Regions from separate parts of the Homo sapiens genome. Here all the other regions are linked to region 1. The links come from fine-mapping of genetic effects on gene expression. A gene starts in region 1. Each other region holds a variant in brackets. All regions are shown on one strand. Distances are between the middles of the regions. Region 1 holds the start of UROD (uroporphyrinogen decarboxylase). Region 2 overlaps ARMH1 (armadillo like helical domain containing 1). Region 3 has its middle 21 kb from the start of LINC01144. Region 4 overlaps EIF2B3 (eukaryotic translation initiation factor 2B subunit gamma). Region 5 overlaps ZSWIM5 (zinc finger SWIM-type containing 5).

Region 1 (6,421 bases):
TTTTAGGAACTCTGCTAAGGAATGAACAACTACGTGAGCAGGAAGGGGAAATGCCAAGACCAGCACTGGCTGGGTCGGCTCACCTTAATCTCACTGAAGGTGCCCAGTGTGTGGTCCCAGGCAGGTACCAGGTGGTGCAGGACACTATCGAGGATCTTGATGAATCTGGCATGGGTAGATAGACTGCAGCTAAAGAGTTTAGCATACCTGTAACACCCCCAACTCCCCAACATAAAGGGACAGGAAAAGGCAGGACCTGGGGGCTTCTCTGACCCTTGAACAGCTTATACTATGAGACCTTGGGAACCTCCTCCATGCAGACACACAAGGCTCAATGTTGGGGGAAGGGAAGGGCCCATAGGTCCAGGACCACAGCCACCTCTGCAGGAGGACAGCTCTGCGGTACAGTACTTCAGGGTCGGTGCCTTCTAGGCGTGGATATCGCACCAGACTAGTTGGCTGGAACAGGTCTGCATTCAACCCTAGTTCCCGCTGTCTAGATGACTTGATCTTGACCCCTCGGAGACGAACATCAATCCCATCATCTGGGGGAAGGGGTCAGAGTAAGGTCATTTACAGCACCTGCTGCCTCCTTGGCCCTCAGACCTGGGACCGGCTCCTTGAACGCTCAGCCTTGTGTCACCGTTAGCCCCTAGAAACTCGGGACCTTCGGGATCACCTTCTATCACCTGATTCTGATTGATCTATTCCTGCTGATTCCTCTGTCTTCCACTAGAATGCTGGGATGCCTGAGGGTCCCAACTCAGTTCCTCTTCCAGGTGAGCCCAACCACCTGTATGGCTTTAAGGCAGGCCTATACCTGGCATGTCCCAGCTGGCTCAGGCCCCAAAGCTCCAAATCCTGGAGTTAGTTCAGCATCGCCTTCACCCCAACTCCAAGCCCATCCTCTTCTCTCCACACACACTCTCTGTTTGCCCCCATCTCCACGCCGGGCTCTCTTTCCCTCCTTATAGCCTTAAACCTCACCTCGGCACTCCACGATGCGGATCTCGATGATCGGGAGGTGGACGGTCATGTCCTCCAGGACACAGACATCCCCGATGAGGGTCCTGAGGAGATGAGTGTGAAGCACTTCAGATACCTCCTGCCTCAGGCCTTCAGAGACTGCTGGAGTCTCACTCAAACTTAGGCTTTCAAGCTGGGCTAGGCTTGGAACATGCCCTACTTCCCTCCCCAGGCCAGCGTGCTCACTCGTCAATGCTCACGTCACTCAGCTTCTTCAGGTTGTCCCCTTCACCCCCATAGACCACCACCCGCTTTGGCATAAAGTTGTCATCTGTGGTATCCACTGTGAGTAGCAGCTTCCTGAAGGGTCAGAGTGTGAATATGAGTCTTTGTGAACCCACAGGGACATAGCCCACCCACCCTGTCCTGCCCAGAGCCTACTTACTTGACAATGGTGCCCTTCTTCATAGTAAGCCGTACCCAGTGTTGGCACTGGGACCCATCGCTCTCCCAGTAGGTATCGGCATTGCTGTCTGTCAGGCAGGACACGTTGAACTCCTCCTGGGGAGGGGCAGAGACGTGAAGTCAGCAGTTACCCTCCCTCCCTGCACTGGGCTTGTGCTCTGGGCCAGGAGCACCAGAGAGAAAGCATAGTGAAGTTGGGCTAACAGGCAACTGGTATGGGATAGGGGGCCGCTGGGTATGTAAGGGGTCCTATAGACGTCCAAGATGGGGAGCTGAACTGAGTGTGGCCTGTGGGGACCCTGTTTTAGTCCTGGCCTGCAGGTGGGGGTTCTTTCTGGATCTAGCCTTGAGGGGTGTGACTATATCTTGCCTGGGGTGGGAGGAGCCCCAGCACCCACCGTGTAGGAGGAAACGTCTATGCTCTCCACATACTGCTTCACGCTACCCAGGTTCTCATCCTCCTTGCCCAGGTGGTCATACAAGAAGTGGATCAGGTCCTCGTCGCACTCGTAGGTCCATGTCGGGGGTACATAGCTAAGCAACCCCAAGCCCCTAATTAGACTGGGCCCAGACGCAGAGCTCCTTCCTCCCCACCCCATTCCAGCTCACTCACAGTAGCCTTTGTACAGCTTCTGCGTATGCCTCTGCCGGCTGAGGTCTCGATCCCAGGCGATGTGAGTATGTCAGGTCCACCACCTGTTCCCACCTGTGGGCACAGAGTAGGGAGTGGGATGGGGAGACATCAGCGGTCAGCAAGACACTACCTCCATGCCGTGTAGCCTTCTTCAGGGCTCTATCTCCCAGTCTCCCTCCGAGCCCCCTTCACGTCCCGCCCCTTTCTGCTCTTAACCCTGCCTCCGCTCCAGTATCCCACCCACCCCAGGCTGTGGCTGAAGTGTTCCCAAGCCCTCCTGGCCCGGCCTTCTGACAGCCAGCCCCGCTCCTTCAAGTGCAGTACCTGAGCACCGGCCGATAATCCACGCCAAAGAGCTGCTGCTGCCGCTGGAGGTGGTTGGGAGTGTCGATGGGTACCAGGCGGGCTCCGCCCTCCGCCGGGCGGCACACCAGCAGCCAGCCTTCCTGCAGCCCGCAGTCGCCCAGGTGCTCTGCCAGCTGCTCCTGCCGGGACGCGTAGGATGGGGACAGCCGTCAGGGAACTGCCCAGCCGCCTGTCGTGCCCAGCCCAGGGCAAAGGGCGCCGAACGCAATGCCAACTCAATACAGGGGAGAAAAGGCAAACAGCCAGAGGTTTCTCTGGCCCCAGGGGTCTTTTACCGGGTCCTGGGCAGGGAAGAGCGCACCTTTGTCAGCTTCACCCAGAGCCCGTGGCCATTGCACAGCTCCTCGCCCGTGGTGCGCACGCAGGCGCCGCGCCGGAGCTCAATGCTGTCGCGGGCGGCGCGGAGGGGCCCGGAGCCGGTACCGGGGGCTGGGCCTGCGGCGCCCACACGCAGCCCCAGGCCCTCTGCCTCCCACACCGGCAGAAGCACGCGCGACGGTCCCGCTGGGTCCTTGTAAAGCTTGTAGAGCACCTCTCGCGGCACGAAAGCCAGCGCTGCTGGCAGCGGCCGCCCGGCGCGGAGGCTCCGCGCTGCCTCTGCCAAGAAGCGCACGCGGCCCAGCAGCTGCCGGGGGGACTCCAGCACCGCGCCCGGGCCAGGACCCGCCATGGCGAAGTGGCGGAGGTGAGCACCTAGAGGCGACCCTGCCCGGGGAACAGCTGGCGCGACCGCGGACAGAGCTTCCCACCACGCCCTTCCCCGCCTTTGGCCAGCCTTTGCCGTATGTTCTGGACTAAGCGCACCCCAGCTCTCACTGTATTGGACTGTGTACTCCCACACTCAACCATATTACTTATCTCTGTGCCACCCTAACCCAGCCGACCAAACCCAAGATTGGTGATTGCTACCTGATCAATCTCCCTCTCTCCATTTCCTTGTGACTACCATTTTATCTCTACTGCTACTACCCTCATTCAAGTCACCATTCTAGCTAGCCTGGGTCATTGCCAACAGTCATTTTTCTGGTTCTTCGGCCTGCTGTTTTTCCTCCCACTCCCAGCGAATCTGCTGGACTCCCTATCCTATGGGTGGTGTGATTAAAGTGTTTGAGACAATGGCCCCTTCCCCTGCCACTGACAGGAGTCTTGAGTCATTAGGGTTGATTCTGTTTGTCACTCCTAATCCCAAGGACACTGGAGATCATTATTCATTTTAATGTGATTGCTGATTTCTGTTTCCCCAGTCTTGTAGCTCCTTAAAGGCTGGGGCTGTCTTGAGCAGAGCTAACCTCTGCACCTACTATAGGTCCAGGCTATAGTATGGACCTGGCTGGATAAGACTGTTGGTATCATGAGTGGGACTTGCGCCAAGCCTCCGGATACCCAGACTGTCAGATGAGAACAAATTCCTCATGTCACCGTAAGATACATTTACAGCGGAGTTTTCTTTTGGGCCTTTGTTGTTGCGTCGCTACAGCAAACTTTACGGTGAAAAAAGGTAGGGGTCCTACGGGCAGCAGCCAGGGCAGCCCTGGAGCTGTCGCTGGAGTCCGATCATGTGATCTTCAACATGGCGACGCTCTTGGTTCCCTACAGAAAGGGGCGGAGCCTGGACTGGGGGGCAGGCTCAGATTCAGGTTAAATTGTGGATTGAGCTCGCAGTTACAGACAGCTGACCATGGAAGCGAATGGGTTGGGGTGAGTTCTCCAGAGCACGCGGTGTGGCTAGCCGGGCTTCTAATTTGAGTCTTCCAACTCAGGACTCTATCCCTCTACTCCCCTTTCCCCACCCTGGAGACCTCCCAACCTGAACTCCGTTAGCTGGGATCCTGAATCCTAAAACCATGGATTTTTGAGATGTTCATCCCAGGGCCTTAATTCAAGGGATGCCTCAGGATTTCCAACCAGGATCTCTATTCTGGGACCATCAACTCTGATCCCTCTTTATCCCCCAGCCTGGGTATTTCTCAGCCCCTGAACCAGCCCAGTGACATTCCCGTTTCTGAGGCTCACTAGTTCGAAGACCCCCAAACTATCCTTAGTGGGCCTTCATTCCCTCCCCCCAGTCCCTCTGGTTGCTTCGAGCTTGGAAGAGTAGAGACTAAGTGGAGGGAAGAGGCCCCAGGGCGGGCCCTTCTGGAGTTTGTGCACCACCTGATAGGCAGAGAGGAGGCGGAACGGGCGGAAAGCCAGGGTTTGGGAGCTGGCCTGGAGGAGGTAGATAGCGGTCCTGGACTGAATCGGCCTTATGAACCCGCGCTTTCCCCAGCCTCCAGCGTAGCATACTGACACCTACCCCCACCCCCACCTGATCGCCAGACCTCAGGGTTTTCCGGAGCTGAAGAATGACACATTCCTGCGAGCAGCCTGGGGAGAGGAAACAGACTACACTCCCGTTTGGTGCATGCGCCAGGCAGGCCGTTACTTACCAGGTAAGAGTCAGGGTCTGGAAATCTAGATAAAACTCCGGAGGGAGAAAAGTTTTCGAGGGGCAGGGGAGGGCTCTGGAGGGCCTCAAGGCTGAGCCCTGTCTTCCCTCTGTATGCAGAGTTTAGGGAAACCCGGGCTGCCCAGGACTTTTTCAGCACGTGTCGCTCTCCTGAGGCCTGCTGTGAACTGACTCTGCAGGTGAGGGGTCCACAAAAGAGGGAAAGATTTATGCCTTCAGTCTGCCACCTAGCAACCTGTCTCCTGTTTCCTACAGCCACTGCGTCGCTTCCCTCTGGATGCTGCCATCATTTTCTCCGACATCCTTGTTGTACCCCAGGTACCCACTCAAACCTGATCCTAGAATATAATCCAAGGACGCCTTGAAAATCCTTCTATCAGTCCAGTCAAGGTTTACAATAAGCACTTATCCTAACTGGATCGAGGGAAAAACTAAGGTTGAAAGAAATGGAGTTTGGCAGAGTTTTATTCTCCTTTTCCTTCCTCCTGGAATGAGCTGAACAGAACCTTTCCTCCTGGATTCCATTTTGGGAACCCAGATGTTTTCTCCCCCTCCAGGCACTGGGCATGGAGGTGACCATGGTACCTGGCAAAGGACCCAGCTTCCCAGAGCCATTAAGAGAAGAGCAGGACCTAGAACGCCTACGGGATCCAGAAGTGGTAGCCTCTGAGCTAGGCTATGTGTTCCAAGCCATCACCCTTACCCGACAACGACTGGCTGGACGTGTGCCGCTGATTGGCTTTGCTGGTGCCCCAGTAATGTGGGACAGGGCAGGGACTCGGGGCGCGGGGAGATCACTCTGGAAGGTCTGGGGTAGACAAAAGGAAGGGTCAGTCTGGCTTCTGTGACACCATCTTTCTATCCTTCTCTAGTGGACCCTGATGACATACATGGTTGAGGGTGGTGGCTCAAGCACCATGGCTCAGGCCAAGCGCTGGCTCTATCAGAGACCTCAGGCTAGTCACCAGCTGCTTCGCATCCTCACTGATGCTCTGGTCCCATATCTGGTAGGACAAGTGGTGGCTGGTGCCCAGGTGAGTCCTGAGAGAGAGAGAAATAGGCTGGGATTTGGTCTGTAAGGACCAGAAGCAAGAGTGTCCTAAACCTGAGAGGGCAGGGGTCTTAATGCCAGGGATGAAAGAACCTTGGCCTCCAGTGATCTAGCGGAGCAGCCAAGCCCATCCTGACACTGACAGTGGGGCTTAATGCTCTAAGTATTCAGACACCAAAGTTAGTGCTGGGATCTGAGGAAAGTAAATTTTTTTTTTTTTAATTACTGGGTTTTTAGGGTCAGGCAGTATCAGGGATTGAAGTCATTTGGGGAAAATTGAGGTGGATTTTGTATGTGGGGGAAACTTCCTCTTTGTGTGTTACATATTTTTCTTCACCATACCCTAACTAGGCATTGCAGCTGTTTGAGTCCCATGCAGGGCATCTTGGCCCACAGCTCTTCAACAAGTTTGCACTGCCTTACATCCGTGATGTGGCCAAGCAAGTGAAGGCCAGGTTGCGGGAGGCAGGCCTGGCACCAGTGCCCATGG
Region 2 (6,421 bases), 300 kb before region 1:
TGAATGTCTTGGAAGAAGGGTCAGGGGTGCCCACTCCACTCCCATGTGGCATGTGTGTGGGGCAGAGTGGGAGGTTATTGGCATCCTTCCCTTAGAAAGCTACAGGGAAAGTGGCATCCTCAGGACAACAGGAGGCGGAGGGGCTTAGGGGGCCTGGCGATTGTTTATCTTACAGTGGGTGTCAGTGATGGAGGAAGCTGCTGGTGGTGTCACCTCCTTTTCTATGAAGAACGCTACCTTCCCCCACCAACCTGCCTGACCAGTGAGTCAGGTTAGCCACGTCCTCTGCTCTCCTTCCCATTATGAGAGTGTCCCTGGTTCCTATCACAGGCCCTCTCTTCTGCTTATTCTCTGAAGCACATTCCCTCAAAGACTTCCCTTCTGTAGCTCACCTCTCCCTTTTTCTCTGCTGGACCATCTCCATTGACGTGCAAATATGCTCTCTATCTTCCATTGTTAAAAGAGCCCCTCTTTGAGAATTTATGGATTAAAAGAGACTTAAAAGACATGTACCAAAAAGGTAAAATTATAGCATTTAGGGATGTACACCCCTCCTTGACCCCAAGTTGCCCCCCAGCTATTCATTTCTTTACCATTTCCTTCCTACTTGACCTCCCAGCTGCTTTCGACCCAGTTGATCACTCCCTCACTTTCTTTTGTTGGCTTCTGTGATAGAAGTTTTCCTCCCACCGTCTGGTTTTGCCTTAGTCTCCTTTGCTTGTTTCTCCTGTTTCTCTACCAGACTGTTAGGTCACCCTCTTCCTTCTCATCTCTGTATACTTTTTCCCTAAGTGGTTTCCCATGTGGATGTCTAACAGACATCTTAAATTTATGGCCAGAATTCTTGAGTTTCTTCCCAAAGCCTGTCCTTGTTTTCCCTATCTCAGGCAGGCGCGGTGGCTCACGCCTTTAATCCCAGCACTTTGGGAGGCCAAGGGGGGCGGATCACGAGGTCAGGAGATCGAGACCATCCTGGCTAACACGGTGAAACCCCATCTCTACTAAAAATACAAAAAATTAGCCGGGCGTAGTGGCATGCGCCTGTAGTCCCACCTACACGGGAGGCTGAGGCAGGAGAATAGCTTGAACCCAGGAGGTGGAGGTTGCAGTGAGCTGAAATCATGCCATTGCACTCCAGCCTGGCAACAGAGTGAGACTCCATCTCAGAAAAAAAAAAAAAAATTATCTGAGCATGGTGGCGCGCACCTGTAGTCCCAGCTACTCAGGGAGGCTGAGGCAGGAGAATTGCTTGACCCAGGAGGCGGAGGTTGCAGTGAGCCCAGATCATGCCACTGCACTCCAGCCTGGGTGATAGAGGGAGACTCCATCTCAAAAAAAAAATTGCTGAAAATATGCTAACAAATACGTATAAGAATCAAGTCCATGGTAAAATGGAACTGTTTATGAATTTGGAAAATGGTCATTTGTAGAATACAATTTTTGTCTACTTGACCTAGAACCTGGAATTAACTTGACTTGCTAATCAAATGATCATTTCATATATTAATAGCGAAGTTGAAAGTATGGTTCATCAGCCCCAAAGTACAACAGTGGGGCTTGTAGCTGAGCGAACTCTCGCACTAACACAGTGGAATCCTCTAGAGATGCTAGTGCAGGGAAACAGTGGCCCTAACTGACCAAACCGAACAGACATGGACAAGGCTTTGAATGCGTGACACCTCCTCCCCTGGCCCCCTGAAACCTGGAGAGACTGGTGGTCGCAAGAACCTCATTGTTAGTTTCCTTCGGTTCTTGGCTGTGTAAAGTTACTTAGGTTCCTAATTCTAAGAGGTATGATTGATCTAGAAATTAATCACAGATTGGCCGGGCATGGTGGCTCACACCTGTAATCCCAGCACTTTGGGAGGCCAAGGCAGGTGGATCACGAGGTCAGGAGATCGAGACCATCCTGGCTAACACGGTGAAACCCCGTCTCTACTAAAAATACAAAAAATTAGCCGGGCGTGGTGGTGGGCGCCTGTAGTCTCAGCTACTCGGGAGGCTGAGGCAGGAGAATGGCGTGAACCCAGGAGGTGGAGCTTGCAGTGAGCCGAGATCATGCCACTGCACTCCAGCCTAGGCAACAGAGCAAGACTCCGTCTCAAAAAAAAAAAAAAAAAAAAAGAAAAGAAATTAATCACAGATTTGGTTTACTTCTTTCTTCATAAAAGCACATTTTTTAACTGAGATGACATTCACATAACATAAAATTAACCATTTTAAAGTGAACAATTCAGTGGCATTTAGTATACATTCACAGTGTTGTACAACCACCATCTCTATCTAGTTCCAAAACATTTTCATCCCCCCAAAAGGAAACCCTGAATTCAGCGAGCAGCTATTCCCCTTCCACTCCCTCCAGTCCCTGGGAAGCCCCAATCTTCATTCTGTCTCTATGGATTTACCTATTCCATATATTTCACATAAATGGAATTATACAATACATGACTTTTATGTCTGGCTTCTTCCACTTAGCATAATATTTTCAAGGTTCACCCACATTGTAACATGCATCAGTACTTCATTCCTTTTTGTGGATGAATAATATTCCGTTGTATGTATCTACCACAATTTGTTTATCCATTCATTCATTATTAGACATTCGGGCTATTTCCAGCCTTTGGCTCTTGTGAACCAGTGCTTCTATGAACATCCACATACATGTAATTGAGTACCTGTTTTCAGTTCTTTGGGGTATATTACCTAGGAGTGGAATTGCTGGATCATATGGTAATTCTGTTTAACTCGTTGAGGAACCCACTAAACTGTTTTCCACAGTAGTTGTACCATTTTACATTCCCAGTAGCAGCAATATATGAGGATTCCAATTTCTCCACTTCCTCACCAAACTTGTTATTCTGGGGATTCTTTAATTATAGCCATCTTAGTGGATGCGAAGTGCATTTTCCTAATGAATAAGGATGTTGAACATAGACGTGTTTCATAGACTTGTTGTCCATTTGTATTTCTTCTTTGGAGAAATGTCTATTCAGGTCCTTTTTCCATTTTAAAATTGGTTGTTGGGTTGTAAGAGTTTTTCATATATTCTAGTTTCTGTGCTCATCAAATATATGGTTTCTCCCATTCTGTAGGTTCTTTTCACCTTCTTGATAATGTCCTTTGTTGTTTTCATTTTCAATGATTTAAGTTTCTCATTTATTCATTTACTTATTCAAAAAGAATGGCACTGGGGTGGGCACTGAGAGTATAGTGACAAATGAAACAAGTCCTTGTTCTCACAGAGCTTTGTTACAACAGTGATACTAATGGTAATGTTAACTCATAACTACTACTAGTGACCAACAATGACTGTGTGCCCAGCATTGTTCTAAGCTCTTTTACCATCTCATCTATTCCTCAGAACAACTCTGTGAAGTAGGTACTATTTTCATCCCCAGTTTACAGATGAGGAAACTGAGGCACAAAGCAATTAAATAACCTGTCCACAGTCTCAAAATGATAAATGAGAAAGCTGTAGATCAAACCCAGTCAGTCTGCCTCCTGCGCCCATCCCCTCACCACCACACTATTCTTTCTTCAGTATTAGAACAAGACTTGCCTTGTTTTTACCAGCTTTGAGAAGTAGATAAAAACCCAAGGACACCCTTTTAATCCCAGCACTTTGGGAGCCCGAGGCGGGCAGATCACTTGAGGCCAAGAGTTTGAGACCTGGCTGGGCGCAGGGGCTCTCACCTGTAATCCCAGAACTTTGGGAATCCAAGGCGGGCGGATCACCTGAGGCCAGGAGTTCGAGACCAGCCTGGGCAACAAGGTGAAATCCTCTCTCTACTAAAAATACAAAAATTATCTGGATATGTGGCAGGAGCCTGTAATCCCAGCTACTTGGGAGGTTGAGGTAGGAGAATCACTTGAACCTGGGAGGCAGAGGTTGCAGTGAGCCGAGATCGTGCCACAGCACTCCAGAGTGGGCAACAAGAGTGAAACTCCATGAAACTCTGTCTCTACTAAAACTACAAAAATTAGCTGGGCATGGTGGCTCACACCTGTGGTCCCAGCTACAGGGAACCG[C/CA]AAAAAAAAAAAAAAAAAAAAAAGGACAGACAACATTGTTAAGATTACAGTAAACCATATTTTTAAAATTATGTTTTCTTAGCTTCATACCCCTCACAGGGTTAAGCAAATACATCAGGATTTCTTCTTTTTTCTTTTTTTTTTTTTGAGATGGAGTCTTGCTCTGTTGCCCAGGCTGGAGTGCAGTGGTGCGATCTTGGCTCACTGGAACCTCTGCCTCCGAGGTTCAAGCGATTCTCCTGCCTCAGCCTCCCAAGAAGCTGGGATTACAGGCATGTGCCACCACGCCCAGCTAATTTTTATAACTTCAGTAGAGACAGGGTTTCACCGTGTTGGTCAGACTGGTCTCAAACTCCTAACCTCAGGTGATATACCCGCCTCAGCCTCCTAAAGTGCTAGGATTACAGGCGTGAGCCACTGCACCACCTGGGTCTCATTTAAAAACTAGTGTTTTTGCCTTACAGAACGTTATGCCTTTGCTTTGCACTTTTTTTTTTTTTAAGACGGAGTCTCGCTCTGTCACCCAGGCTGGAGTGCAATGGCAAGAGCTACTGCGCCCGGCCTTTTTTTTTTTTTTTTTTTTTGAGACAGTCTTGCTTTGTCACCCAGGCTGAAGTGCAGTGGCATGATCTTGGCTCACTGCAACCTACACCTCCTGGATTCAAGCAATTTTCGTGCCTCAGCCTCCCGAGTAGCTGGGACCACAAGCATGCAGCACCATGCCTGGCTAATTTTCATATTTTTAGCGGGGATGGGGTTTCACCATGTTGGCCAGGCTGGTCTCCAACTCCTGGGCTCAAGCGATCCACCTGCCTCGGGCTCCCAAAGTGCTGGGATTACAGGTATGAGTCACTGCACCCGGCCCTGCTTTGTACTTCTCAGCTGACATGGGCAGTAATTTTAGCCTTTCCTGCTGTATAAGAGGCCACCTGTCCTGTACAGCTTCATTGAACAGCAGTCAGAAGGCTCTGACACTGAGGGAGACTTTCACATAAAAACCTGCTATTTTTAAAAGATGCATTACTTCCCCAAAAGTATATGAGCACTTCAACTGTGACACTTTATTCAGCGTTTATAAAAGTCTATAAAACAGTCTTCCAGGGGATTTAAGTGAAAATCTTGGGGGGAAATCTTATTTCTAACTTCCCCATTTGCCTGCCCCTCAAAACATCTGCATCCTGCCCTTGCCTTATACTGCGTCCTTTTTGAGGACACTGGTGCTTGACTCGAGTCTCAGGGATAGTTCAAAACATCAGTACACGGACTGGTTGGGCTGGGTGAAAGCAGATACCAGTGGAAGACACACCATAGTAATTCTTTGTCCAGCAATAAAAATACCACCATAGCACATACATTAGTTACTTTGTTGCCTGGCTTTAAAAACAAAAGGTGTGCATAAAATATATTTTTATTGTTTCAACATTGAGCTTTGAACAGAATGTAGTTAGAGAGGTAGCAGGGGGCCTGACGCAGTGGCTCACGCATGTACCCAGCACTTTGGGAGGCCGGCGGATCACGAGGTCAGGAGATCTAGACCATCTGGCTAACACGATGAAACCCTGTCTCTACTAAAAATACAAAAAAAATTAGCCGGGCGTGGTGGCGGGTGCTTGTAGTCCCAGCTACTTGGGAGGCTGAGGCAGTAGAATGGCGTGAACCTGGGAGGCGGAGCTTGCAGTGAGCCGAGATTGCACCACTGCACTCCAGCCTGGGTGACAGAGCGAGACTCCGTCTCAAAAAAAAGAAAAAAAAAAAAAAGAGGGAGCAGGGGCCAGGCCTGGTGGCTCATGCCTGTAATCTCAGCACTTTGGGAGGCCGAGGCCGGCAGATCACCTGAGGTCGGAAGTTCGAGACCACCCTGACCAACATGGAGAAACCCCTTCTCTACTAAAAATACAAAATTAGCCGGGCGTGGTGGTGCATGCCTGTAATCCCAGCTACTTGGGAGGCTGAGGCAGGAGAATCCCTTGAACCCGGGAGGCGGAGGTTGCGGTGAGCTGAGATCACGCCATTGCACTCCGGCCTGGGCAACAAGAGTGAAACTCCGTCTCAAAAAAAAAAAAAAAGGTAGCAGGGTATACAGAAATCAGAGACAGAATTAATTACAGAATGTCAGGAAGATGGCTGACACTGGTCTCTTCCTTTTTTCTTGAGGCAGGGCCTTGTTCTGTCACCTAGGCTGGAGTGCAGTGGCGCATGCACGGCTCACTGCAGCCTCAACCTCCTGGGCTCAAGTAAGTAGCTGGGACTACAGGCACATGCCACTATGCCTGGCTAATTTTTTTTTTAATTCTTTTTAGAGATGGGATCTCACGATGTTGCCCAACCTGATTTGACTGTCCCCGGCCTTTTTTCTTTTTTTGTTGGGGGGGAAACAGTTTTACTGTTTCCC
Region 3 (6,421 bases), 270 kb after region 1:
AAGGGATGCCCACTTTCACCATGTCTGTTTCACCACTTCTTTTCAGCATAATGGTGGAAGTTCTAGCCAGAGCAATTAGGCAAGAAAAAGAAAACGCATCCAAATTGGACAAGAGGAGTAAAATCATCTGTTTGCAAATAATGTGATTTTATATGTAGAAAACCCTAAAGATTTCACAAAAAACTGTTAGAACTAATAAATGAATCAACAAAGTAGCAGGATATACAGTCAATATGCAAAAGCACTTGCATTTCTATACACTGACAGTGAATAATCTGAAAAGGAAACTGGAAACAATTCCGTTTACAATGCTTAGGAACTAAGTTAACCAAAGGAGTGAAAGATTTATACAATGAAAACAGCAAAACATTGCTGAAAGAAATTAAAGAAGTTATAAATGGAAACACATCACGTGTTCACGTATTGGAAGACTTAATATTGTTAAATTTTCTGTACTACCCAAAGCAATCTACAGATTCAATGCAATCCTTATCAAAATCCCAATGACATTTTTAAATAGAAAAATGCATTTTAAAACTAATATAGGGGCCGGGTACAGTGGCTCATTCCTGTAATCATAGCACTTTGGAAGGCCAAGAGGGGAGAACCTCTTGAGGTGAGAAATTTGAGGCTGCAGTGAGCTATGATTGTGCCGCTGCATTCCAGCCTAGGTGTAGTGGCACAATCGTAGCTCACTGCAGACTCAAAGTGGCACAGCCATTATATCTAGGGATTTTCTTTCTTCCTTTTCTTTTTTCTTTTTTTTTTTTTTTTTTGTTGTTTTTTGAGACAGAGTCTCCCCTGTCTTCACTCTGGAGTGCAGTGGCACCATCTTGGCTCACTGCAACCTCCGCTTCCCAGGCTCAAGCTATCCTCCCACCCCTGTCTCTTAAGTAGCTTACAACAGAGCAAGACTCTGTCCATGAAAATATAAATAAATGGCTGGGTACGGTGGCTCACGCCTGTAATCCCAGCACTTTGGGAGGCCAAGGAGGATGGATCACCTGAGGTTAGGAGTTCAAGACCAGCCTGGCTAATGGGGCAAAATTCCATCTCTACTAAAAATACAAAAGTTAGCCAGGTGTGGTGGTGCGCACCTGTAGTCCCAGCTACTTGGGAGGTTGAGACAGGAGAATTGCTGAACCCAGGAGGCAGAGGTTGCAGTGAGCCGAGATCACGCCACTGCATCCCAGCCTGGGTGACAGAGTGAGACTCCGCCTCAAAAAAAATAAAAAATAAAATAAATAAATAAAAATTTTTAAAAATTCAGGCCAGAAGTGATGGCTTACACCTGTAATCCCAGCACTTTGGGAAGCTGAAGTGGGAGGATCACTGGAGGCCAAGAATTCAAAACCAGACTGGGCAACATAATGAGACTCTGTCTCCACAAAAAAACAAATACAAAATTAGCTGGGCATGGTGGTGGGTGTCTGTGGTCCCAGCTACTCTGGAGGCTGAAGTAGGAGGATCACTTGAGCCCAGGAGTTTGAGACTGCAGTGAGCCATGATCATGCTACTGCACTCCTGCTTGTGTTACAAAGCAAGACACAGTGTCAAAAAAAAAAAAAAAAAATTACTCAAGCCCTGTCCCACACAATGTGGAAGTCTGTGCTAAAAAACTTTGTGTTTTGTATATTCCTTGGAAAAATCTCGTGTTCCCCTTATCTCTGCTTCTCCTGTTCTCCAGCTCATGATGACTTCTCTATTTGACCTAAGGTTCTTCCTTGGACCTTCCCATCTTCTCATTTATTCTCCTCACTGACCCCCTCTCTCCAACTTTCTCAGGCCTATTCCCCCAGGCTGCCCCAAACTCCAAATTCCTCTCACTTCTTCCTTTCTTGAGCAGAGCAATTCTGCTCTCTTTATCTCATACCTCCCCCTCCCTTCCTTACCCCTCCCAAGAATCACTGGCTGTTTCCTCAATAAAAAGAACCACCTGGCCAGGCGCGGTGGCTCACGCCTGTAATCCCAGCACTTTGGGAGGCTGAGGTGGGTGGATCACTTGAGGTCAGGAGTTCAAGACCAGCCTGACCAACATGGTGAAACTCCATCTCTACTAAAAATACAAAATTATCTGGGCGTGGTGGCGCATGCCTGTAATCCCAGCTACTCGGGAGGCGGAGGCACGAGAATAGCTTGAACCCTGGAGGTGGAGGTTGCAGTGAGTGAGATCATGCCATTGCACTCCAGCCTCGGCAACAAGAGCGAAAAAACAAACAAAAAAGAACCACCTATCCGTGCTGCGAATGTTGTCCCTTCCCTGGAAGTGATAATAAGCCAGGAATTATCTTTCTGAAGAGCAACATTTTTCCTTCCCACTATTACATAGAGAAAATCATTCCTTTACCATCACCATCTGCCCATCCTCTGTGCCTCTCCATACACTGTTCCCTCTGCCTGGAACACCCCACACAATCCCCAGCACCGTCACTTGGCCCATCCATCATACGAAACTTCAAGTCTCCCTCAAACATTACGATCCCCAGCACCTCTTACATTTGCTGACTGAATAAATAAGTAAATTATGTCTTCTCAACTCTCAAATACAAACAGCATTCATCTCTGCAAAAAATCTTCAGCAAAAATAAAGCAAAATTGGCTCAGATTTAATCTCACGGGCCTCAAATTTTGAGCTACCCTTATCAGTAGTTTCTCCTCCTGCTGCTTTATTTCTAGAATTGTTATTAGCTCCTCCAAGGTGAAAGTTAGCCAAGACTGGATCATACTTCCCTTT[C/T]CTTCCTCATGTTCATTAACTCCTTTAATTCCTGTATTTCCAGGATGGAGCACGCTGCTTGTCAGAAACACAGCTGTTTCCCTGTGGTCTCTGTACCATTTTGTAAGACCTTTTTGGCATTTTGGCATTTGCTCAACATTTGTGGGTTTGCTTTCCTTCCTTTGCAAGTGAAATAGCTTCAATAGTAGCTAATAGCTAACAACACAATTCTTCTGATTTCTTAAAAATTATACTCTAGATCATTTGGAAAAGAGCTGCTTTCACATCGTAAGTAGCAAATTTAGAGAAAGGAATGCTCACATTTATCGAGATGTGGTCTTAAGGTAAAAACAGGTAACTATGCACTATGGCACTAATACTTTAATAATTATTTGTGTTGTTGATTCTAATGCTATTTTCCCATAGCATTCCCATATACATTGCAGATTAGCAAAGTAAATATTTCATCAGCCCCAATCTTCTAGAAAATGTCATATGTTTAACCCCTAACATATTGGTCATTTTTGTTGTTTCCCTTTTCAGTATTTTATAAAAAACATTTTGAAGTGTTTTCACAAAGTTTACAATTTCCTTTTTCTTTTCTTTTCTTTCTTTCTTTTTCTTTCTTTCTTTCTTTCTTTCTTTCTTTCTTTCTTTCTTTCTTTTTCTCCTTCCTTCCTTCCTCTCTCTCTTTCTTTCTTTCTTCTTTCTTTCTTTTTTTGATTTTGAGATAGGGTTTCCCTCTGTTACCCAAGCTAGAGTGCTGCGATCATAGCTCACTGCAACCTTGAACTCCTGGGCTCTAGTGATGCTCCTGCCTCAGCCTCCTGAGTAGCTAGGACTACAGACACATGCCACCATGTCTGACAAATTTTTTAAATTTTTTTTTGTAGAGGCCAGGCACTGTGGCTCACGCCTGTAATCATAGCACTTTGGGAGGTCTATGCAGGCAGCTCACTTGAGGTCAGGAGTCTGAGACCAGCCTGGCCAACATGGTAAAACCGTGTCTCTACTAAAAATACAAAAATTAGCTGGGCATGGTAGTGTGTGCCTGTAATCCCAGCTATTTGGGAGGCTGAGGCAGGAGAATCGCTTGAATCTGGGAGGTGGAGTTTGCAGTGAGCTGAGATGGCGCCACTGCACTCCAGCCTGGGCAACAGAGCGAGACTGCATCTAAAAAAAAAAAAGGGGGGGTTGTGTTTTATAGAGACAGGGTCTCACTATGTTGCCCAAGCTGGTCTCAAACTCCTGGCTTCAAGCGATCTTCCCACCTCAGTCTCCCAAAGTTCTGGGATTACAGGCAACAGCCACTGTGCCCAGACTCCTTTGCCCATTTTTAAATTTAGTTATTGTTTTCTCACTATTAGGTTGTATGAGTACATGTTCTTTAATTTTTTTCCCTTGCAAATCAACACAGAATGAACTGAATAAACACCAATGGGCATCCAAATTAGCATGAAGAGTCAGCATTTTCAGCATAACTTAATGGTGGCTATTGGATCTCAATTGTAATAAATTTATAAAATATGCATTTTGTCACCACTATCAGCAACTTCATTTTTCCATTTCCCACTTATTTATATAAAATACCAGTAAAATGCACAAAAAAATCAAATAGCTGTACAAATCATCTTGTACTGACAAAGTTGGCAAAACCAGAATTGCTTAGCACAGTATGAGATAAAAATGTTCACTTATCAGCAGATGTGCAAACATTCAACATGCTTTATTTAGGCCGGGTGCAGTGGCTCATGCCTGTAATCCCAGCACTTTGGGAGGCTGAGGCAGGTGGATCACGAGGTCAGGAGATCAAGACCATCCTGGCTAACACAGTGAAACCCCATCTCTACTAAAAAAAAAAATACAAAAAAATTAGCCTGCCGTGTTGGCAGGTGCCTCTAGTCCCAGCTACTTGGGAGGCTGAGGTAGGAGAATGGCGTGAACCCAGGAGGCGGAGCTTGCAGTGAGCAGAGATCGTGCCACTGCGCTCCAGCCTGGGCGACAGAGCCAGACTCCATCCCAAAAAAAAAAAAGCTTTATTTAGAGATATCAAAGTGTAATGTACAAAATTACAGGTTGTAATTAAGTCAAGAACTACCCCTACTTCTCTTTTGACCATCTTTTTTAAAGTTAATGACACTGGTTGGTGGAGCCAAGATGGCCGAATAGGAACAGCTCCCGTCTACAGCTCCCAGTGTGAGCAACACAGAAGACGGGTGATTTCTGCATTTCCAACTGAGGTACCGGGTACATCTCTCTGGGGAGTGTTGGACAGTGGGTGCAGGAGAGTGGGTGCAGTGCACTGAGCATAAGCTGAAGCAGGGCGAGGCATCGCCTCACCCGAGAAGTGCGAGGGGTCAAGGAATTCCCTTTCCTAGTCAAAGAAAGGGGTGACATACGGCACCTGGAAAATCGGGTCATTCCCACCCTAATACTGTGCTTTTCCAACGGTCTTAGCAAACGGCACACCAGGAGAATATATCCTGCGCCTGGCTGGGAGGGTCCTACACCCACAGAGCCTCCCTCATTGCTAGCACAGCAGTCTGAGATCAAACTGCAAGGCAGCAGCGAGGCTGGGGGAGGGGCACCTGCCATTGCCGAGGCTTGAGTAGATAAAGCGGCCAGGAAGCTCGAACTGGGTGGAGCCCACTGTAGCTCAAGGAGGCCTGCCTGCCTTCCTTTGTAGACTCCACCTCTGGGGGCAGGGCATAGCCAAACAAAAGGTAGCAGAAACCTCTGAAGACTTAAATGTCCCTGTCTGAAAGCTTTGAGGAGAGTAGTGGTTCTCTCGGCACGGAGTTTGAGATCTGAGAACAGACAGACTGCCTCCTCAAGTGGTTCCCTGACCCCCAAATAGCCTAAATGGGAGGCACCCCCCAGTAGGGGCAGACTGACACCTCACACGGCCGGGTACTCCTCTGAGACAAAACTTCCAGGGGAATGATCAGGCAGCAACATTTGCTGTTCACCAATATCAGCTGTTCTGCAGCCTCCGCTGCTGATACCCAGGCAAACAGGGTCTGGAGTGGACCTCCAGCAAACTCCAACAGACCTGCACCTGAGGGTCCTGACTGTTAGAAGGAAAACTAACAAACAGAAAGGACATCCACACCAAAACCCCATCTGTACGTCACCATCATCAAACACCAAAGGTAGATAAAACCACAAAGATGGGGAAAAAACAGAACAGAAAAACCGGAAACTCTAAAAAGCAGAGCGCCTCTCCTCCTCCAAAGGAATATAGCTCCTCACCAGCAAAGGAACAAAGCTGGATGGAGAATGACTTTGACGAGTTGAGAGAAGAAGGCTTCAGACGATCAAACTACTCCGAGCTAAAGGAGGAAGTTCGAACCCAAGGCAAAGAAGTTAAAAACCTTTTAAAAAAATTAGACAAATGGCTAACTAGAATAACCAATGCAGAGAAGTCCTTAAAGGACCTGATGGAGCTGAAAACCATGGCATGAGAACTACGTGATCAATGCACAAGCCTCAGTATCCGATTCGGATACTGAGGAAGAAAGGGTATCAGTGATGGAAGATCAAATGAATGAAATGAAGTGAGAAGAGAAGTTTAGAGAAAAAAGAATGAAAAGAAACGAACAAAGCCTCCAAGAAATATGGGACTATGTGAAAAGACCAAATCTATGTCTGATTGGTGTACCTGAAAGTGATGGGGAGAATGGAACCAAGTTGGAAAACACTCTGCAG
Region 4 (6,421 bases), 110 kb before region 1:
GATTTCTAGGGAAGCTGTAAGAAAGACTAACACACAGCTACTGGTCTATGAGATTATGCAGGACTGCATACTTTGAACTTTTCTGAGATTTGCTTTAATTTAAAGAAAGCTGAACACAAAGATATATGTACCATGAACACTGTACAAAACATCTGTGAACGATAGAGCTAGGGAATAAAAAAAGCAGTTCTGAAAGGCAGCCTTGAAAGAAGGAAATATGTCCATGAAAGACAAAATTAGTACTTTACATGTCCAAAGCTCTTAGTGACTCTAAAAAAAGGTCTTTAGTTAACAACAAGATCTTTAATTTTCCCCCAAAAGATCTCCAGGGATTTTCAGATCCTCATTCCCTTCAAATCTACAAAGGTCCCCAGGCTCAGGGCAATGCCAAATGTTCTTGAAGTCTGCTCCCTTCTTCCCCATTCCCAGCATCATCATGTGTGTGGGAGGAACTGAGTTGTTTTTATCCTGCTCACTGCCTAAGTACAGCAGAAGCCAACTGGGAGTTCTATTCCCCAATATGCTCATTGTACAATGCTTAGTTCCTAGAAGGGTGGGTAGAAAAGAGCTGACAGGCAAAGAAGCAGTTTATAGTAGCTGCATGTTTAAAAACTGAAATTCATCTAGACACCCTGTGTGAACACATTTAGATTTTCAGCATTGCTGTGAATGAGACCGTAAGAATTTCTAGCCTAGTGGGAGAACTGGTATGCATGTTGATATAGTCCACAGTTACTCAGTGAGAAAGGAAAGCCATCATTAATTTAAACTGAGTGTGTTGGCTAGGTGTGGTGGCTCATGCCATAATCCCAGCACTTTGGGAGGCTGACATGGATGGATCACCTGAGGTCAGGAGTTCGAGACCAGCCTGGCCAACATGGCAAAACCCCATCTCTACTAAAACTACAAAAAAAATTAGCCAGGTGTGGTAGCACACACCTGTAATCTCAGCTACTCAGGAGGCCAAGGCAGGAGAATCGCTTGAACCCGGGAGGTGGAGGTTGCAATGAGCTGAGATCATGCCACTGCACTCCAGCCTGGGAGACAGGGCAGACTCCATCTCAAAAAAACAAAACAAACAAACAAAAAAACCCAAAAAACTGAGTGTGTCCTGCCAGCTTATATGGCTGCACAGAATGACTTTTTCCTAACCAAGCTAAGTTCAAAGTTTGGGGACCAGAGAATGGTATTGGGTGAGAACAGAATGAAGAAAACCCAGTTGCACAAAAAAAAGTCAAATACAAGAGAAAATTAATTTTATCACAGGCTTCTCTTTGCATGAATATGAATGTTAACAGAGAAGGAAGTGTCATGGATGGCTTCTGAATTCAGATGCCAGTGGAACTGGAGCTTGAAACAGTTATTCATAAAACCAGAGATAACAATTCAGATGAGGATAAAAGCCTCCTACAGTAACTTAACTATCTTGCAGTGTTCAATGCAGCAACATAAACAACTCCTCTATTTGAAGACCTTCAGATAATCACCTTCTACTTTATTTGGCAATCTTTTTTTTTTTGAGACGGAGTCTCGTTCTGTTGCCCAGGCTGGAGTGCAGTGGCACAATCTCGGCTCACTGCAAGCTCTGCCTCCTGGGTTCATGCCATTCTCCTGCCTCAGCCTCCTGAGTAGCTGGAACTACAGGTGCCTGCCACCGTGCCCGGCTAATTTTTTGTATTTTTAGTAGAGATGGGGTTTCACCGTGTTAGCCAGGATGGTCTCGATCTCCTGACCTCGTGATCTGCCCACCTCGGCCTCCCAAAGTGCTGGGATTACAGGCATGAGCCACCATGTCCAGCCAGATTTGGCAATCTTAAACATATTCCAACAAAGAAGCATCTTCTCTCCCGCTAAAAGAATCAGAGCTAATTCACTACTCCCTAATCACTGCAATTTAGAAGAAACTAGAGACCAAGATATGCTTGAAATAATCAAGTTTTCTCAGAACTAGGGAAAAGGGAATGACCTATGGCTACTACTTACTAGCTACCTATAATTTTAACAAGAGGTGCTGGGGCAAGCACCTGTGGTGTGGCTATCTGGTATTTGCTACATAGGAAGGCACTAACCATACCATCCCAATGCCTGATCTTGGTCACACTGTAAGTGGTAGGAATAACAGATTCTCGATTGTTAGGAGTGCATATGGAGTTATCAAACTAGAGGTCTGCCTGTTCAGCAGGGTAGGCTATGACACCATAGCCCTGAGGTGCTCAGGCCCTCTCCAAAAAAAGCAGTTGTGTTGAGGTGAAAACCCTGGACTCAAAGCAGCAGAGACTGCCAACAGTGGAAGGATTCTTAAGAGTTCCAAGTTCTGCTCCAGGTCCAGTTTTTAGGTGACCTTGTGGGTTTGTTCTTGTTCTTGTCCAGATCCAGCTTTCCTTTCTGACTGATGGTCTGGCTGACTGATAGTGATTTCAGGCTCAACACTAGACACAGAAACAACAGCATACATACACTACTCTACGAGCTTCCGTAATTGTGTAATAAATCCTTTATTCTCTATGACTCACAGCATTTCTGTTTCTCTGATATAAAAATTGCTACTAGAAGTGGTCCTGGAAAAAAAAAAATCTTAAAGATGGGTTTGCTGAACTTGTTCTGTGTTATTTGGAATTGGTTCTCTGATCTGATTAGATTTAAAGGCCTATCAACTAATTGGATGAGGCCCACCCAGATTAGCCAAGATAATCTCTCTTACTTAAAATCAATGGATTGTTGATATTAATTACATACAAAAATACCTTCATAACAACACCTAGATTAGTGTTTGATGGAATAAATAGGTACTACAGACTAGCAAAATTGATACATAAAACTAACCATCACACAGACTAATGAGAGCCACATGTCTAATAAGTAACACAGGAATTAGCAAAGCCTTCCTAGGCAGAATCACACTGCTGTTCACCCTCACCCATCTCAACTCAGCGTGCCAGAACCTGCTGAGATCTAGAAGCATCTCACTCCCCAAGAGGTGCTCAAGAAAGCATTCTGCACAGCACCACTGACAAGAAGCTTCTACTCAAAGATAAGCCCAAGAGTGTTACATCTTTCAAGCTATCCTTCTAAGCTGTCTGGCCCATACAACTCTGGGTGGGGAAAACTGACACATTAATTTGCACTCCACTCTAGTCTCACTGGTCTAGCTAATATGACATTTCAGCAGGTCATGCCCATCATGAGGTAGAGTCTATTTTCTCGTCTCATGAATCTAGGCTGGCCTTGTGACAGCCTTGACCAGAATTATCCCAAGTACACAAGCAATATTCCTACTGTCTTCAGGCCTGGTTCCAAGCTGGTTGTGTAGGAGATGGTCACGGCAAAGGTTCAGTGAAGGATCACTCAGGAGTTCATGCCTCAAAGCTTTGTTTCAGCTTCTGCATGGCTAGAGTTATACTAAATTAGACAGAGTTTCACTCTTGTTGCCCAGGCTGGAGTGCAGTGGCACGATCTCGACTCACTGCAACCTCCGCCTCTCAGGTTCAAGCGATTCTCCTGCCTCAGCCTCCCGAGTAGCTGGGATTACAGGCATGCGCCACCATACCCGGCTCATTTTTTGTATTTAGTAGAGACAGGGTTTCATTATGTTGGTCAGGCTGGTCTTGAACTCCTGACCTCAGGTGATCCGCCC[A/G]CCTCGGCCTCCCAAAGTGCTGGGATTACAGGCATGAGCCACCGTGCCCGGGATAAAAGATATTATGAAACAACCTAGCTCAGACATTCCCCACCCTTGAGGTTCAACAGCTGGGCAAATAACTTTCTCCTAAGTACCAGGTATGTACAAGACACTAAGTTGACATCTATATATTAATGCTTACAAATTTATATCTGAAGCATAGTCCTATCCTCTGAACACCGAGTCTATATATGACTTACTCCTGTTTACCTGGATCCCCAAATGAACTTCGGATCTCCCTGCCACAAACCCAGTGCTTCCTATCTGATTATTATCCTGCTGCTCAAACCTGAAATGTGAGTCTTTTTTGACACCACTACACTTCTCAACCCCAAGGTTCAAACACCAAGTCCTCAGATTTTACCTGCTAAATCCTTCTCTAACTTATCTACTTTTCTCCAACTCCACTGTCAATACCCTAGTTCAAATTACCATTACTTCTTACCTGGATTACTACAATACCTTCCCTTACTTGGTCTCTCTGCATCCTCTCTTACCCAACTCCAATCCTTTCTCCATATTGTATCCAGAGTTATCTTTCGAAGGCAAATTTGATTGTGTCATTCCCTGCTTAAAATGCTTTGGTAGTGGCTGGGCGCGGTGGCTCATGCCTGTACTCCCAGCACTTTGGGTGGCCGAGGTGGGTGGATCACGAGGTCAGGGGATGGAGACCATCCTGGCCAACATGGTGAAACCTCATTTCTACTAAAAATACAAAAATTAGCTGGGCGTGGTGGGGCGTGCCTGTAATCCCAGCTACTTGGGAAGCTGAGGCAGGAGAATTGCTTGAACCAGGAAGTCAGAGGTGGCAGTGAGCCAAGATCGTGCCATTGCACTCCAGCCTGGCGACAGAGCAAAACTCCTTCTCAAAAACAAACAAAAAATGCTTTGGTAGTTGGGACTACAGTAGATTGTTTTAAAAATGGTCACAGCCGGGCACGGTGGCTCATGCCTGTAATCCCAGCACTTTGGGAGGCTGAGGTGGGGGGATCACCTGAGGTCAGGAGTTCAAGACCAGCCTGACCAACATGGAGAAACCCTGTCTCTATTAAAAATACAAAATTAGCCGGGCATGGTGGTGCATGCCAGCTACTCGGTGGCTAAGGCAGGAGAATCGCTTGAACCCAGGAGGTGGAGGTTGCAGTGAGCCGAGATCACGCCATTGCACTCCAGTCTGGGCAACAAGAGCGAAACTCCATCTCAAAAAAAAAAAAAAAAAAAAAAAAAAGATGGCCACAATTATTCCCCTCTCTGTACTCATATCCTTTTGTAAAGTAACTTTGCAGCTCCTCCCATCATGAGGTAGAGTCTATTTTGCATCTCATGACTCTGGGCTGGGCTTATGACTGCTTTGATCTGAAGAATGTGGTGCAAATAATGCTGTTCCAGCCCTTTCTCCAATTCACAAGATTAAGAAGTCTCAGCTCTGCCTATAAAGACTCTGTTGCCAAAGCACATTCAAACACAAGGTGACACTCTGGCTCCATTAATGTCCTCTTCCAACAAATTTACTGGGATCCTACTATGTCAGGCCATGTATTAGACCTTAGGCCTACAAAGACAAAATACAACCACTATCCTTATGTAACTTATAGTCCAGAGCAATACAGGGTTATAAATGTTACCACAGAACTTTCTTCAGTATATAGGGGAGCACAAAGGAAGAAGCACGGTTCTGCCTATGACAGGAAAGATTAGAAAAATCTTCACAGAAAAATGATATTTGAGCTGAGTCTTGAAAGAAAAATAAGTTCTTAGCCAGGGAGAGAAGAGTAACTTTGGCTGAAGGATTACCAGGAACGGTGAAAAGTAAAAGGACAAAGACATTACAAGGAATGCAGAAGTTAACAGAACTATAAGCAATTTTTCATAGCTACTGATAGAATGTTGAGAATGGGGTTGTGTTAGAGAAAGATGAGATATAAGGCTGGAGGGGTAAGCATGATTAGATAACTGAGGGCTTTAGGAATGTGTGCTTTATTCTACAAGCAATGTATTTATAGATTTGGGATAAAGAGATAGTGGAAAGCAAAGTTGAAAATTCTGGAGAATGTTGAAAAAACTAATGGAGAAAAGGTTCCAGGAGTGGCAGAAGAAAGGGGGTAAAAGGCATAAATGAAGGGACTGGCCCCAAACTTCTTCTAATGCTGGAGGAAAGGAATCGAAGGTGGGTCTGAATAAAGGCAAAGTCATGGATGGGGTAGCTGGGGAAATCAGCAGGCCCATGTTTTGACAGGAGAATGGTGATGGTAGAGAACAGCTTCTGAGAGGAGTGGAAAGCTGGCCCAGGACAAATGGAAGAATGAAGAGTGGTTCTGAGGGTTCAGCTAAGATAGGAGCCATGAATTTATAGTGCTGCCAATTTATATCCGTGCATAATATTTCTCCTAAAGACTTTGGACTTGGAGAGAAATGCCTGAAGGCACAGGACCTAGATTGGATGAAGAAGGAAATGAGGGGGGAAAAGAGAGAGAGAGGGAGAGAAAAAAGAGAGGGTAGGAGTGGTGGTAGTAAGGGACTAGAAAGATTTGAGGCTGAAATAAGGAAACAGGATTCTGGGTAAAGATGGCAGATTAAACATAAGCGTTAACCCATCCTCTTTCTGAAAACTCACTGAAGTGTCAGTACAGATTTTTTTTTTTTTTAAAGACATAAACCCACAAGGACAAAGACCACAAGAAGAGATGACAACAAAATTTTGGAAGCTGGAAAACAAAAGGATGGTGGTGGTAACAGATTTAGCAT
Region 5 (6,421 bases), 93 kb after region 1:
AATGGAACAGAACAGAGGCCTCAGAAATAACACCACACATCTACAACCATCTGATCTTTGACAAACCTGACAAAAACAAGAAATGGGGAAAGGATTCCCTATTTAATAAATGGTGCTGGGAAAACTGGCTAGCCATATGTAGAAAGCTGAAACTGGATCCTTTCCTTATACCTTATACAAAAATTAATTCAAGATGGATTAAAGACTTAAATGTTAGACCTAAAACCATAAAAACCACAGAAGAAAACCTAGGCAATACCATTCAGGACATAGGCATGGACTTCATGACTAAACCACCAAAAGCAATGGCAACAAAAGCCAAAATTGACAAATGGGATCTAATTAAACTAAAGAGCTTCTGCACAGCAAAAGAAACTACCATCAGAGTGAACAGGCAACCTACAGAATGGGAGAAAATTTTTGCAATCTACTCATCTGACAAAGGGCTAATATCTGGAATCTACAAAGAACTTAAACAAATTTACAAGAAAAAAAACGACCCCATCAAAAAGTGGGCAAAGGATATGCACAGACACTTCTCAAAAGGAGACATTTAGGCAGCCAACAGACACATGAAAAAATGCTCATCATCACTGGTCATCAGAGAAATGCAAATCAAAACCACAATGAGATACCATCTCACACCAGTTAGAATGGTGATCATTAAAAAGTCAGGAAACAACAGATGCTGGAGAGGATGTGGAGAAATAGGAATGCTTTACACTGTTGGTGGGAGTGTAAACTAGTTCAACCATTGTGGAAGACAGTGTGGCGATTCCTCAAGGATGTAGAACTAGAAATACCATTTGACCCAGAGATTCCACTACTGAGTATATACCCAAAGGATTATAAATCATGCTACTATAAAGACACATGCACATGTATGTTTACTGCAACACTATTCACAATAGCAAAGACTTGGAACCAACCCAAATATCCATCAGTGATAGACTGGATTAAGAAAATGTGACACATATACACCACGGAATATTATGCAGCCATAAAAAGGACGAGTTCATGTCCTTTGCAGGGACATGGATACAGCTAGAAACCATCATTCTGAGCAAACTGTCACAAGGACAGAAAACCAAACACCGCATGTTCTCACTCATAGGTGGGAGTTGAACAATGAGAACACCTGTACACAGGGCGGGGAACATCATATCCCAGGGCCTGTCGTGGGGTGGAGGGCAGGGGAAGGGATAGCATTAGCAGAAATACCTAATGTAAATGACGAGTTAATGAGTGCAGCAAACCAACATGGCACATGTATACCTATGTAACAAACCTGCACATTGTGCACATGTACCCTAGAACTTAAAGTATAATAAAAAAAAAAAAACTGTGAACTATGTATTTTATATTTCTGTTACCTAACAGTCTGGCATAGAGTAAACATTTATAAAAGTGTTTGCTGAACTGAATTGCTTAAAATCATTCAATGGTTCTCCACTGATTACAAGATAAAGTTCAAACTTCTTACAATATGATTTCTTTCTATCTCTTCAGACTTGCTTCATACCACTCTCCCACATTCCAAACACACCAAACTATTTGCAGATTCTTGACTATGCTGTTTTCTCCATTTTCTTATCCTTTATGCCTTTGCATGTGAAGTTTCCTATACCAGGCATGACCTTCTCATTTCCTTCTCATGCTAATTCTTGACTCAAATGAGCCCCTACTCTGGGAAGTCTTCCCTCATCTTTTTGGACAGCTAGTTAAGTGCTTCTTCCTAAGCACTCATTTTTCATCAGTCATATCTCCATTATAGTACTTGACATCAATGTAATTGTCTTCACATTTATCGTTTCCCTTTAGATTGTGAGTTCCTTGAATAAGGGAGTTATGTATATCTTTTTCATCTCTATATTTTCATCTCAGGCACATGGTAAGGACTTAATAACTGACTGTGTATGGATGAATGAATAAATGAACACTAAACTGAATCTTTTACATATTTATATCTACAGTTCACAGAGGATTAAGCATGTTTATAAAATTCCTGATTTGTGATTAAAATAAGCCAGTAATTAAATAATTTTACTGAGACGGTGAGCAAAGTAACAATAATTTGTATATTTGGTATAATATTGAAACACCAAGATTATTTTCCATAATGTATGTATATAGATTTTTAAATTATTTATTTATTTATTTATTTGGTGGGGGTACAGGGTCTTGCTTTGTCGCCTAGGCTGGAATGTACTGGCATGATCACGGCTCACTGCAACTTCGACCTTCAGGGTCAAGTGATCCTCTCACCTCAGCCTCCCAAGCAGCTGAGACCACAGGCATGCGCCACCAATACCTGGCTAATTATTATTTTTTTAATGTTTGTAGAGATGAGTCTTGCTATATTGCCTAGGCTGGTCTCAAACTCCTGGTCTCAACTGATCTTCCTGCCTTGGCCTCCCAAAGTGCTGAGATTGAAGGTGTGAGCTGAGCCACCATGCCCGGCTCATAATTGATATTTATGCCTGTTATGCTTCTGCCAATTTTTATAACCTATTTTCAAAAATATAAAATACAAGCAGTTTTTATCAGCCAACATTTACTGGATATACTTACTACATGACAGATAGTATTCTAAGTGCTTCCCATGTATTAACTAATTAACTAATTAAATGCTCAAAGCAACCCTACAAAGTAGATTCTGTTGTTATTTCCCTGTTTCCGATAAGAAAACTAGGATAAGAGAGATAGAAGAACTTGTCTAAGATCACACAACCTGTAAAATGTAAAGTTGGGATCTGAACACAGGTAGTCTGGCTCCAGAGCCTATATTCTTAAGGACTACAATATATTAAATATGACTCTGAAGTTTAAATTTGTATACAAAACTTTGTAAAGGTAATTAGCAAGTGTAATTCTACAAAGACAGAGAGTCCTGCACTAATAACAAGTCAGTAAACTCTGACATTTGCCTGTTTTCCTGGGCAAATGTTCAAGGTAACTGAAACTGACAAGTGCTGTGATGCTCTCATAGTTGGAATGAAGGTGGGCTCATGAACTCATCT[G/A]TACAAGAAAATGTATCAGGACATGAGTGAATCATCTGCTTAGAGTTCTAAAGGAAAGCACTTCTCAGTGCAGCCCTTTGACACCATTCAAAGCCTTTTGTTTTTCTGAGTGCAAGAAAGGCTCTAGTAAAGCTTGGGCAATTAAAACCACTTTTCTCATTGCTCTTTTGATTCACCAGGCCCCTAGGCAGGTGTTAATGCATGAAAATGATTATCATTTCAGCCAATAGCAGGGAAAAGAAGAGATGTGGTTTATGAAAAGAATATTTTTTCTTATAGTCAGTTAAAAAGGATATGCAAATATATAAACTAAGTAACTTCTTTGACTGAGAAAGCTTCCTCTTGAATAAATTTGGTTTTGATGAAACTGCATAGTATAAATTAGACCTTCTCACTTAATTCCTGTCTCCCGGAAGGCCACAGCAGTATACCAGCAGAAGTAAAGCAGCCACTCTTTCTCTCCTTTTTGTCACTTAGCAAAACAGTAACCAGAACAATTAAAACAATGAGAGTGACATCTATAAAATAACTAATTTCCTTTCCAGAAAGCCTTTCTCAAAAGCTGGGTAACAACTGCCTAAACAAGAGCACTGGAATGGCTCCATATACTATCGATACAAACAGATTAGGAATCAGAATGCTTGAGTTGTAATTCTAGTACCCCTCAATTCCTCTTTGCCTCAGTTTCTTAATTATGCAAATAGACATAATACTACTTAGCTGCCTATCAGACTCATGTGAAAGTAATTTGTAAAGAACACATTTCCCAAAGATATCATTCAATAGCAATCCCAACTGGCCACGCCTGGGGCCTATATAAGTTCACAAGAAGCAGATGGTGCCCAAACACTGGGTGAGGGTGCGAGAGATTGCAAAGTGAGGAGCAGTATTGTTATTTGGGAATACAAATGATGCTGCCCCATTACCCTGAGAACTACTTGGTTTGTTTGTATTATAGAGGTCACCCTAAGCTTCTCAGAGCAGCTGAGTAAGCTAGAGGGCCCTTCTTGCGGCCATCTGCTCCCCTCCCAGACTCCTCTGGCAAATCAAGTGGTTTTCCCTGTATTAACCTCCGAAGAACAGCCATTGGCCCCCCTCAGCACCAGCTTCAGCAGCCAGTGGTCTCTGTTCTCCATCTGTACCAGAAACCACAGTTCAAGAACAATGAGGCTTCCGAAGCCCAGGTATTCACTTACAGCGATAACCTTGCATTTACCTAGTTTTCTAGTGTTCTTTCACTTGTGCCCCTACAAGGAAATTAGATGTGTATTTTAAAAGACTGAGATCTTCGGCTCGCCGCAACCTCCCTGCCTTGGGCTCCGGTGATTCTCCTGCCTTGGCCTGCCGAGTGCCTGGGATGCCAGGCACGCGCCGCCACTCCTGACTGGTTTTTGTATTTTTGGTGGAGACGGGGTTTCACCGTGTTGACCAGGCTGGTCTCCAGCTCCTGGCCTCGGGTGATCTCCCCGCCTCAGCCTCCCGAGGTGCTGGGATTGCAGACGGAGTCTCGCTCACTCATGCTCAATGTTGCCCAGGCTGGAGTGCAGTGGCATGATCTCGGCTCGCTACAACCTCCACCTCCCAGCCGCCTGCCTTGGCCTCCCAAAGTGCTAAGATTACAGCCTCTGCCTGCCTGCCACCCCGTCTAGGAAGTGAGCAGCGTCTCTGCCCGGCCGCCCATCGTCTGGGATGTGAGGTGTGCCTCTGCCCGGCCGCCCCGTCTGGGAAGTGAGGAGCGCCTCTGCCCGGCCGCCCCGAATGGGAAGTGAGGAGCGCCTCTGCCTGGCCGCCCCGTCTGGGATGAAGTGAGGAGCGCCTCTGCCCGGCTGCCCCGAATGGGAAGTGAGGAGTGCCTCTGCCTGGCCGCCCCCTCTGGGAAGTGAGGAGCGCCTCTGCCCGGCCGCCCTGTCTGGGAGGAAGTGAGGAGCACCTCTGCCCAGCTGCCCCGAATGGGAAGTGAGGAGTGCCTCTGCCTGGCTGCCCCCGTCGGGGAAGTGAGGAGCACCTCTGCCCCGCCGCCACCCCATCTAGGAAGTGAGGAGTGTCTCTGCCTGGCTGCCCATTGTCTGGGATGTGAGGAGAGCCTCTGCCCGGCCGCCCCGTCTGGGATGTGAGGAGCACCTCTGCCTGGCCGCCCCATCTGAGAAGTGAGGAGCACCTCTGCCCGGCCGCCCCGTCTGGGAGGAAGTGAGGAGCGCCTCTGCCCAGTTGCCCCAAATGGGAAGTGAGGAGCGCCTCTGCCCGGTTGCCCCGAATGGGAAGTGAGGAGCGCCTCTGCCCGGCCGCCCCGTCTGGGAGGTGAGGAGCGCCTCTGCCCGGCCGCCCCGTCTGGGAGGTGAGGAGCGCCTCTGCACGGCCGCCCCGTCTGGGAGGTGAGGAGCGCCTCTGTCCGGCTGCCCCGTCTGGGAGGTGAGGGGCGTCTCTGCCCGGCCGCCCCGTCGGGGAAGTGGGCGCCTCTGCCCGGCCGCCCCCTCTGGGAGGTGAGGGGCGTCTCTGCCCGGCCGCCCTGTCTGGGAGGTGAGGAGCACCTCTGCCCCGCCCCCTCTGGGAGGTGGGGAGCGCCTCTGCCTGGCCGCCCATCGTCTGGGAGGTGGGGAGCGCCTCTGCCCGGCTGCCCCGTCTGGGATGTGGGGAGCGCCTCTGCCCGGCCACCCCATCTGGGAAGTGAGGAGCGCCTCTGCCCGGCCGCCCCATCTGGGATATGAGGAGCGCCTCTGCCCGGCCGCCCTGTCTGGGAAGTGGGGGGCGCCTCTGCCCGGCCGCTCTTACTCTGGGAGGTGGGGAGCGCCTCTGCCCGGCCGCCCATCATCTGGGATGTGAGGAGCGCCTCTGCCCAGCTGCCACCCTGTCTGGGAAGTGAGGTGCCTCTGCCCGGCCGCCCCGTCTGGGAAGTGAGGCGCGCCTCTGCCCGGCCGCCCCGTCTGGGAAGTGAGGAGCGCCTCCGCCAGGCTGCCCCATCTGGGAAGTGTATCCAACAGCTCCAAAGAGACAGCGACCATCAAGAATGGGCCATGATGACTATGGCGGTTTTGTCGAAAAGAAAAGGGGGAAATGTGGGGAAAAGAAAGAGAGATCAGATTGTTACTGTGTCTGTGTAGAAAGAAGTAGACATAGGAGACTCCATTTTGTTCTGTACTAAGAAAAATTCTTCTGCCTTGGGATGCTGTTAATCTATAACCTTACCCCCAACCCCCTGCTCTCTGAAACATGTGCGTGTCAACTCAGGGTTAAATAGATTAAGGGTGGTGCAAGATGTGCTTTGTTAAACAGATACTTGAAGACAGCATACTCGTTAAGAGTCATCACCACTCCCTAATCTCAAGTACCCAGGGACACAAACAGGGCCGAAGGCCACAGGAACCTCTGCCTAGGAAAACCAGAGACCTTTGTTCTCGTGTTTA

What was found.
Region 2: its variant is fine-mapped to the expression of UROD in monocytes after Pam3CSK4 (Quach 2016, PIP 0.95).
Region 3: its variant is fine-mapped to the expression of UROD in whole blood (TOPMed, PIP above 0.99).
Region 4: its variant is fine-mapped to the expression of UROD in whole blood (TOPMed, PIP above 0.99).
Region 5: its variant is fine-mapped to the expression of UROD in whole blood (TOPMed, PIP 0.98).

What each region holds. Positions count from the first base shown.
Region 1 is chr1:45,008,157-45,014,577 of GRCh38, forward strand. UROD (uroporphyrinogen decarboxylase) reads left to right here and starts at 4,098. Exons shown (of 10, transcript NM_000374.5): 1 at 4,098-4,129; 2 at 4,751-4,863; 3 at 4,980-5,059; 4 at 5,136-5,198; 5 at 5,438-5,635; 6 at 5,753-5,914; 7 at 6,283-6,420. The coding sequence starts at 4,110. It overlaps HECTD3 (HECT domain E3 ubiquitin protein ligase 3), which reads right to left and starts at 3,168. Exons shown (of 21, transcript NM_024602.6): 1 at 2,733-3,168; 2 at 2,390-2,550; 3 at 2,045-2,137; 4 at 1,830-1,965; 5 at 1,412-1,527; 6 at 1,213-1,326; 7 at 988-1,070; 8 at 380-545; 9 at 84-165. The coding sequence starts at 3,101. RefSeq lists silencers at 2,835-3,004, 3,085-3,214 and enhancers at 3,975-4,024, 4,065-4,194, 5,605-6,141.
Region 2 is chr1:44,708,506-44,714,926 of GRCh38, forward strand. The region is part of intron 6 of ARMH1 (armadillo like helical domain containing 1); the gene reads left to right. All of the region lies in intron 2 of LOC105378690 (a long non-coding RNA gene), which reads right to left. Among named protein-coding and RNA genes, the nearest start is that of RNU5F-1, 10 kb to the right of the region's middle. RefSeq lists a silencer at 4,573-4,632. The variant C/CA (reference allele first, on the strand shown) is at 4,030.
Region 3 is chr1:45,279,708-45,286,128 of GRCh38, forward strand. No RefSeq gene overlaps it. Among named protein-coding and RNA genes, the nearest start is that of LINC01144, 21 kb to the right of the region's middle. The variant C/T (reference allele first, on the strand shown) is at 2,735.
Region 4 is chr1:44,903,013-44,909,433 of GRCh38, forward strand. The region is part of intron 5 of EIF2B3 (eukaryotic translation initiation factor 2B subunit gamma); the gene reads right to left. Among named protein-coding and RNA genes, the nearest start is that of PTCH2, 63 kb to the left of the region's middle. The variant A/G (reference allele first, on the strand shown) is at 3,635.
Region 5 is chr1:45,100,711-45,107,131 of GRCh38, forward strand. The region is part of intron 1 of ZSWIM5 (zinc finger SWIM-type containing 5); the gene reads right to left. Among named protein-coding and RNA genes, the nearest start is that of UROD, 92 kb to the left of the region's middle. The variant G/A (reference allele first, on the strand shown) is at 3,021.